Linked DNA regions of Homo sapiens: all the other regions are linked to region 3. The links come from fine-mapping of genetic effects on gene expression. A gene starts in region 3. Each other region holds a variant in brackets. All regions are shown on one strand. Distances are from middle to middle.

What was found.
Region 1: its variant is fine-mapped to the expression of CNNM4 in whole blood (INTERVAL, PIP 0.93).
Region 2: its variant is fine-mapped to the expression of CNNM4 in monocytes (TOPMed, PIP 0.98).

What each region holds. Positions count from the first base shown.
Region 1 is chr2:96,522,402-96,525,156 of GRCh38, reverse strand. No RefSeq gene overlaps it. Among named protein-coding and RNA genes, the nearest start is that of ARID5A, 13 kb to the left of the region's middle. RefSeq lists an enhancer at 290-809. The variant G/TG (reference allele first, on the strand shown) is at 1,623.
Region 2 is chr2:96,684,964-96,687,718 of GRCh38, reverse strand. It overlaps FER1L5 (fer-1 like family member 5), which reads right to left. Exons shown (of 53, transcript NM_001293083.2): 21 at 2,290-2,390; 22 at 1,602-1,779; 23 at 1,369-1,524. Among named protein-coding and RNA genes, the nearest start is that of FER1L5, 44 kb to the right of the region's middle. RefSeq lists an enhancer at 1,076-1,801. The variant T/C (reference allele first, on the strand shown) is at 1,616.
Region 3 is chr2:96,759,563-96,762,317 of GRCh38, reverse strand. It overlaps CNNM4 (cyclin and CBS domain divalent metal cation transport mediator 4), which reads right to left and starts at 1,416. Exons shown (of 7, transcript NM_020184.4): 1 at 1-1,416. The coding sequence starts at 1,318. RefSeq lists enhancers at 191-779, 659-908, 780-1,369, 1,929-1,978 and silencers at 872-1,055, 1,179-1,598.

The DNA.
Region 1 (2,755 bases), 240 kb after region 3:
GAGAGAAGCCTGCAGAGGTCTCAGGGCTCACTTCCGCTTCCCATGAAGGCTCCCACCTGGGATCCCCAAGGTCCAAGAGCCCTCTGGAGGGAGGACCTCTCCTAAAGGGCGGCAGCCTGGGATCATCAACCAGTCCATGAAATTTCCCTCCGAGCCCTTTACAGTTCACTGTGCCCTGATTTTACAGATGGGAAAACCAAGGCCCAGAGAGGGAAAGTGGTGTGCTCAAAGCCACACTGTGGATCAGGGGCGGGGCACGGTCTGGTGCCTGCCAGCGTCCTGCGTTTCTTCCCACACTGCAGTCAGGAGAGGGAGGTGGCCGGGCAACCCTGGATCTGCTGCCCTCGGGCAGTTAGGGGTGGGGAGGGAACTCCAATGGATGCTGTGCCCCTAGCAGCAGTGGCTGCTTCACATCCCGTCCTTGGCCAGTTGTTTTGAACAAGGTATGTTTTGCTAACTTTTTACCTGGGGATCTCCAAGCATGCGATGAATTCGGAGAATATGGTTGCTGGTTTCTGCACATTTTTTTCCCCTGTAGTCTGGCCTGTTTATCACGAGCTCTGCTAATCAGAATATTCAAGTGCATGCACATACACAGGCATACACGATGTGCAGGACGTTCTGGGGAATTTACTTTTCTGGGTAACTGAGGGTTAACTGGAAACCTGTGTTCTTATGCCTTATTGAAAATTTTTCTACAAATGATGAGCATTTCCCCAACTTAGTATTTTGAAAAGTTCCACCACTTTCTAAATATGTGACCTTGGTTGAGTTACCTAACCTCAGTAACCTCAGTTTCCTTATCTGTAAAATGTGCAGAGCAATGCCTCTCTAGGTAATGAAAGGAACTAGAAATAAAAGCAGTGCATAGCATACCGTGTGTGCTTTAGAAATGGAGCCATTGCTACTGCTATTAGGACTCTTATTACCTGGTCAAAGGATCGGGAGAGTCGACTGAGGATCTTTGTGGGGATTTGGGACTCGGGTTTGGATGCCGTTGCACATCTGGCATCCATCTGCAGTTTCTGTCCCAATTAAGTCCTCCCAAGGAGATAGTTTTCTTATGATTTGCTGCTTTCTCATAAAAGCCGCTGCAGCCGTGGGAGCTGCATGCAATGAACCAAGGACCTTTGGTCTGGAGCCCATACGTTCTCTTTGAGTTTGTTGTGCCTCCTCTGGGAAAGGGCCAGGGGATGAAGGGCAGGGCCTGGGCTCAGCCTTCCTGGGATTCTGTTCCACCCCACTCTGTGTCACGCATGCACCCTGCACACAGCTCAGGACCCACTCCCTTGCCAGAGGGCACGCCAGGAAAAAGACAGGGAAAGGGGCACCCCGGCCACTGAGAAGGCAGGAAGGGCACCCTGGGCTGGGGGAGAGCAGGACAGGCTCTGGATCCCCAGCAACTACAGGGAGATTGGGATAGCTGGGGAGGGGTCTGGGTCTTAGTCTTGGCCTGGTGCATTCTAGGAAACCCTTTCTTCCTTCCCTTCCTTCCTTCCTTCCTGCCTGCCTGCCTGCCTGCCTGCCTGCCTTCCTTCCTTCCTTCCCTCCATCCCTCCCTCCCTCCCTCCCTCCCTTTCCTTCCTTCCCTTTCATTCCTTCCTTCCTTTTTTTTTTTTTTT[G/TG]ATGGAGTCTCACTCTGTTGTCCAGGCTGGAGTGCAGTGGTGCTATCTTGGCTCGCTGCAGCCTCTGCCTCCTGGGTTCAAGCGATCCTCGTGCCTCAGCCTCCTGAGTAGCTGCCACTGCAGAAGCATGCGCCACCACACTCAGCTAATTTCTTTTTTTTTTTTTTTGGTATATTTTTAGTAGAGATGGGGTTTTACCATGTTGGCCAGGCTGGTCTCAAACTCCTGACCTCAAGTGATCGGCCCACCTTGGCCTCCCAAAGTGCTGGGATTACAGCTGTGAGCCACTGCGCCTGGTCCAAGAGGCAGCCTTTTCTGACCCACCCCCAGATAGATCCAGATTGAAGAGTTGAGGAGCTGCCTGGAAGTGGGGAGCCCACGGGACTCCCAGCTCCATGAAACTGCTCCTGCTGGCTGTGGAGGGGGAGGAAGCAGCCACAGATGGGGAGGGTGGCAACCAGGCACCTACCCCTGCAGGGCCGCTGCCTTGCCCCCACAGGTGTAGCACTATCCGCCCAGGGATGAGGCCTGGGTGCCTGCTGGTGCCCTGTGTCAGAGGTACAGTCCTGTGAAAGGGCATGGAGTTCAGAGTCAGATCAACCCCAGCCCTGTCCCTTACTGGATGGCCTTGGGCAGCCCACTTAGATCTCTGGGCCTCACTCTCCTTACCTGTAAAATGGAAATACTTACCTTTGGGTGATGATATGAAGATGCAATGAGACTAGTGTGTGAAAAGTCAGCCTGGTGCAGTCCCTAGGCTTACAACCTGCCTCCTGCCCTTTGCTCAGGGCTGCTGAGAGGAGCACCTGGTGCTGGGCTGGACAGAGCCTTGTAGACTGAGGGTAGAGCATTGTAGGCTTTGGTTTCTGGGATGGGGGCAAAGGCTATCTCTAGACCACATCTGTATGCAGTCCCTCCTCGTTCTCGCTCCAGCTCAGTCTGTCCCTGCCTCTCACTTCTCTCTCTTCTTCCCCATAGCCTGCCCCAGGCCCCCAGCCTTCATACGGAGACCTGCCACGCTGGCACAGGGCCTGCAATAGGATGAGGAAGTGCTTGCTTTGATGTCCCACTCCCCTTAGACTCACTTTTGTCCACCTGGAGACAGCATCCTGGGGCACATAGAGGCCCACCAT
Region 2 (2,755 bases), 75 kb after region 3:
AGCCCTGGGAGCGGGGCCCTCACTGAGCTGAGTGCTGGAGCTGTAAGTGAATGGCATGGAGTTCTGTTCTGCCCTCCAGAGTGGGGTGGCTCCACCCTGGGAGCCATGAAGCAGAGAGGGTGGGAGTGCCTCACAGAGGGAGTAGCAGGGATGTTGACAATGGGACTGATGGACATTCCTTGTGTGCTTGTTATGGGCTGGCACTGTGCCAGTTGCCCAGTGTGCATCATAGTCCTGGATCCTCACACCCCACCATGAGAGGGCATGGTGATTGCCAGGCCCATTCTACAGAGCAGCATGCTGAGGGCTGGGCATGGCCAGGAGTTGGCCTAGGGCCACACAGAGCCAGGATTCATGTCTCAGGGGCTCTTGCGGGATGCGAAGGACTCTGGTGGTCATGGAAGGAGCCTTGCGTGTTGGTGGAGAGGGCAAAGGGCAGGTACAGTTGGGGCCAGGAAAGCCCAGAGTGTCCTTACTGTTGAGAGTATGGGCCAGAGAGAATGGATGCAGGAACAGGGGCCAGGGGCCAGGTGGCAAGGCGGCACCTTCTCCAGGAGGCAGTGGGGAGCCAGGGAGTCTCTGAAGGGGGAGGGAGTGGCCCCCACGTCCCCCCAGGGAGGATTAGAAGCAGGGAGGCCACTGTCACAGCCAGGGGTGGGGGTGGTGGTCAGGGTGTTTAGTCTTATTTATAGCTTGCATCTGATATGATGGGCTGGTACCAAACCTTATAGACATTAAATATTTTGGAGATCACCCCGTCACGGTCCAGGGAAGAGATGACAAGGGGCTGGACCAAATGGTGGCCATGAGGATGATAGAGGAGGTGGATTTGTTTTCTGTTTTTTTTTTTTTTTTTTTTTTTTGAGACGGAGTCTCGCTCTGTCACCCAGGCTGGAACAGTGTCACGATCTCAGCTCACTGCAACCTCCGTCTCCCAGGTTCAAGCGATTCTCCTGCCTCAGCCTCCCATGTAGCTAGGATTACAAGCATGCGCCACCATGCCCAGCTAATTTTTTTGTATTTTTAGTGGAGACGGGGTTTCACCAAGTTGGTCAGGCTGGGTCTCAAACTCCTGACCTCAGGTGATCCACCCGCCTCAGCCTCCCAAAGTGCTGGGATTACCTGTGAGCCACCGTGCCCAGCGAGGAGGTGGATTTGGGGAACATTTAGGAGGTACATGGACTTGGCATCACCCAACATGCTGACAGCCACAGACCCCTCTCTTCCTCTGGGGACTGTTTCAACCCCATTCCATGTGGTTAAGGGACCAGGAAAACAGGCCCCATAGGGGCTGCCCTGCGAGTTCAGGGGGCTCCCCTGGGGGCATTTCTCAGCCCTGTCCTCCCCTGAGGAGTCCCTGATTCCCACCTGTAGGAAGAGTGTCTGTATCTTCCCACAGAGCCTGCCGGAGTGCAGAGCCCCTGCCGGGGAGAAGAGGACGGAGTGGGCAGGCACCTGTGCATAGGCCACTCGCTGCTCCTTGGCCACCAGCCAAATCATCACGTCAGGGAGGCCCATCTGGGGCTGCCGAGGTGGGAGAATGTCAGGCCCTGCGCGGCTGGCTCCCAGCCCTGCTGCAGGCCAGTGTGTGCAGCACCCACCTCAGGGAGCACGG[T/C]GTTGAGGCGGTACAGCCAGTCCTCCGCTGTGGCCACCATGTCCTTGGGCTTGGCTTGCTTGGCCTTTTGGGCCAGTTCCTGCAGGAGGAGGCTGCGGAGCTGCCACCTCTTCCTGTCCAGGCTGGTGGCTTTGGGCTGATAGGTCATGCAGGGCAGAGGGCGCCTGTGGCCAGGACAGGGTAGCAGGGGCTGGACCTCTCTACTGCCTCCCAGTGTCACCATTCCTGCCCTGCCTTAGGCCAGCGTGCCCCTCCTGGCCTCAAGATCCTGCCCCCATCTGCTGCTAGCCTGGCCCAGGAGCCCTTCCCACTGCTCCATAGGAAGCCTGCTCGCTGTGTGTCCAGCCCTGGGTTCTCATCCAGTCCTCTCCCTTCCTCCCAGGGCCTGCAGGGAGGTGGGGCTATGTGGGCTTGTCTGGAGGAAGAGGACAGGCTGGCTTAAGAGGAGCCTCGGGTGTGGGTGTGGGGTAGCAGGGACCATTCTGATGGGGCGGTCAGGGGGCCTGAATGGGAAGGGAGAAGCGACTCTTGGGGTTTCCCGCTGGGGAGAGGTCTGAGCAGTGCTCCTCCCCGAGGAGGGCGGGGGGAGGTGTTCAGGGCACTGCGCTGAGTCCCCAGGCCCAGATCTGGCTCAGCTCCAGGCCAGCTGTATCCCGGAGTGCCCCTACTCCTACTTGCAGTCCTCTGCCAGCTCCCTCAGCAGTTTCTCCCACTGGTAGAGGAGAGCTGGATCCTTCGGATTCCGCGTGGATTTCAGGGTGTCCAGGTTGGCTTTCTGCCCAGCAGGAGAGAAATGGTGAGAGAGCCCGCCTCAGCATGGAGCCCAGCTGGACAGGCCACAGGGCTGATTGGCCCAAGATGTTTTCAGCCACGACCTTGGGAACTTTGAGGGATAACCTGGTGATATCAGTTCAAGGTTGTCCACAACTCCGAGGCTAGGAACCCCCCACATCCTTCCTGCTTCCCAACAGAAGAAACAGGTGGCAAGAAGCCGGGATGGGGTAAGACTGGGAAAGCAGTGCAGAGCCCTGACCTCCACATAGGCATGAGAAAGTCATGCCAGAGGTGCCAGCCCCAGGTGGCTCCCGAGAACTACACTCCCAACAGGCACTTGAGACAGTTTCTGATCTCACTCCTTCC
Region 3 (2,755 bases):
TCTTGAGGGGGGTGCAGTCATCGGGGTCCACAAAGGCCAAGTCTTTGACGTAGAGAATATCTACAATATTGGACTGCTCGTCTTCGAACACCGGGATGCGAGTATAGCCGCTTTCCATTATCTCCGACATGGTGTTGAAGTCCAGGATGGCATCGCTGCGGATCATGAAGCAGTCCTGGAGCTGGGTCATGATATCCTCTACAGTTTTGGTCCGTAGTTCCAGGGCACCCTGGATCATATTGAGCTCCTCTTTCACGAGGTCATTATAGGGCTCCGTCACCTTCAACATCTCCATCAGCTTCTCCCGGTTGTAAACAGTGCGAATCTCCTGGCCCAGAAAAAAGTCCAGGAGCTTGCTAATGGGAAAACTGAGGGGGAAGGTGAGTAGCATAAAGAATTTGGTGAGAAGGATGGTGTTGGCACCCACAGCCAGCCCATGTCGGGAGCACAGGGCCTGAGGTAGGATCTCCCCAAAGATGACAATGCCAATGGTGGAGGAGGCCACCGCCATGAGGCCGGACCCGATGAGGTTGTCTAGAAGGATTGTGAGGGAGGTGTTGACCAGCACGTTCCCTAGGAGCAACGAGCAGAGAAGGTAGTTGCCCTTGCGCCGGATGGGCTCAATCTTGCGGGCATAGCGCCTCTCCTTCTCGGTGCCACAGTTCTGCACGATGCGCAGCTCCATGGGGTCCAGGGCCATAAGCCCGAGGTTGAGGCCAGAAAATATGCCCGACAGCACCAGCAGCACCGTAATTAGGAGAATGTGCAGCCAGAGAGGCAGGAACCTCCCAGGCTCCTCCACCATGAAGAGCAGTGAGTCCTTGTCCGTCCACTTCAGCCAGGGCCCGTCGGGCTGGGCCCGGGTGCACAGTGCATACAGCTTCATGCTCTCGCTCCTCCGGAGGAACTTGGTGAGCACCACCAGCACGCCGGACGTGTTCCCGCGGCTCACGTTGACCAGCTGCTGGACGACCAGGTCCTTGGTGAGCTCGAGGCAGCTGGTGGACTTGTGGAGGGTCTCGGCATCGTCCACCTCGGTGAAGGAGATCAGGTTGCTGGAGATGTTGCCCAGGCTGTAGCCGTACAGCCTCAGGTTCACGGTGCTGCCCTCGGACACGAAGATGATGCCATCCGGGTTCGTCCCACACGACTTGTTGCAGCTCGCCAGCCTCATGCCCACGATCGTGCCCTGCTGGGGGCTGCCCTGGCCCCGGGCCCCCAGCGCCCACAGCAGCACCAGCAGCACCGGCGCCGCCAGGAGGAGGCGCCCGCGGGCCGGTCCGCCGACCGGGCGCCCGCCCCCGCCCACCGGCGCCATGTTGCTCTGGCTCTGCCGCCGCCGCCGCTCCCCGCGCCACGCCGCGCGGCCCCGGTCCGCACCGCAGCTCCGGCCGCTCCGCTGCCGCCGAGCCAACTGCCCGGGCCGCGAGCCTGACGTCAGGTCAGCGCCCCGCCCGCCCCGCCCCGCCTGCCCACGCCCCTCATTTGCATTGGAGGCCCCGCCCCCGGGGCTCGCTGCTTGAGCGCCCGCCCTTAAGGGGGTACAGTCGCTTAAGGTGGAGCAGCGCCGCCGCGCGAGAGCCGCCAGCGGGTACCCGCCCAGTGCTCCGCCTCCGCGCCCTTCCCCGCCTTTCTCTGCCAGTGGGGCCAGCTCTCCTTCTCCGGGACCTGGTCTCCTAGCTACGCCGTTCCTGTTCCTCGGCCTCGCACGGCCGCACGTGGGAGGCTCCTCTCCCGTCCCTCACCTGCAGCTAGGGGTGGCCCGCTCTGCAGGCAGGGCGAGAAAAGTGCTTTTCCTGATGTAGAAAAAGAAAAAGGAAACCTGAGGGCTTAGGCTGGCATTGCAGCCTGCCCCTTGGAGACTTTTCTGGCCTCCTCACTGCTGAGATTTTTGCCGACCTTGTCCTAAGGCCAGAAGTAGGTTACCCCAGCCCCAGCCCCAGCCCGACGATGCTTCCATCAACCAGTGGCTGCCTGATGTGGAAGGCAAATCTGGGGAACTAAGGTTATAGAAGGGGCAGGCTCTGGCCTAGACTTCTCTCCTGTCTCTTCCATTTAGGCATAGATATTTATTGAACACCTACTTTGTACCAGGCACTTGTTCTAGGCTCTGACAATAGAGCAGTGAACAAGCCAAAGTCGCTGCCCATTGGGGTTTACAGTCTAGAACAGAAAACAGGAGATAAACAAGTAAACACATATATTCATTAAATCCCCCCAACAACCCTCAGAGTTAGTAGAATTATTTCCATTTAGAGATGCAGAAATTGAGCCGAGACAAAAATCCTGGTGCCTCCATACTGTCATCTCCCAGCCCATTTCTCCATCTGTAAATGGGGGTAAGAATGACAGAGCATTACTTCGCTAAGCTTGCGGGATTGTGGACCTAGACATTGAACATGACAGGACAGCTCTTTAGAATATTCTTTGGCTAGGTAGTAGTTGTTGCTACCTGCCTTCCAGGACCAAACTCCTAACCCCAAATTGTGGTGATTGATCAGCTGGGCAGCTGCTTGTGGACATGAGCAGGCAGGCGCGGCAGTGGGCCTATCCCTGAAATGACTGCTTCCTGAATGGCCCTAGCCCTGTGTCAGTAGGGTGTATAAGGAAGACCACAGCTGCCCGCCCTGTGAGGGGGAAGAAGACAGACAGATAAACATCCTTACAATAATTGCACAGGTGCACAGAGAAGATCAGGTACTGGGTTGACCACCAGGTCTCACAGCAAATCTTTTGCCAGTACTGAAGACACAGA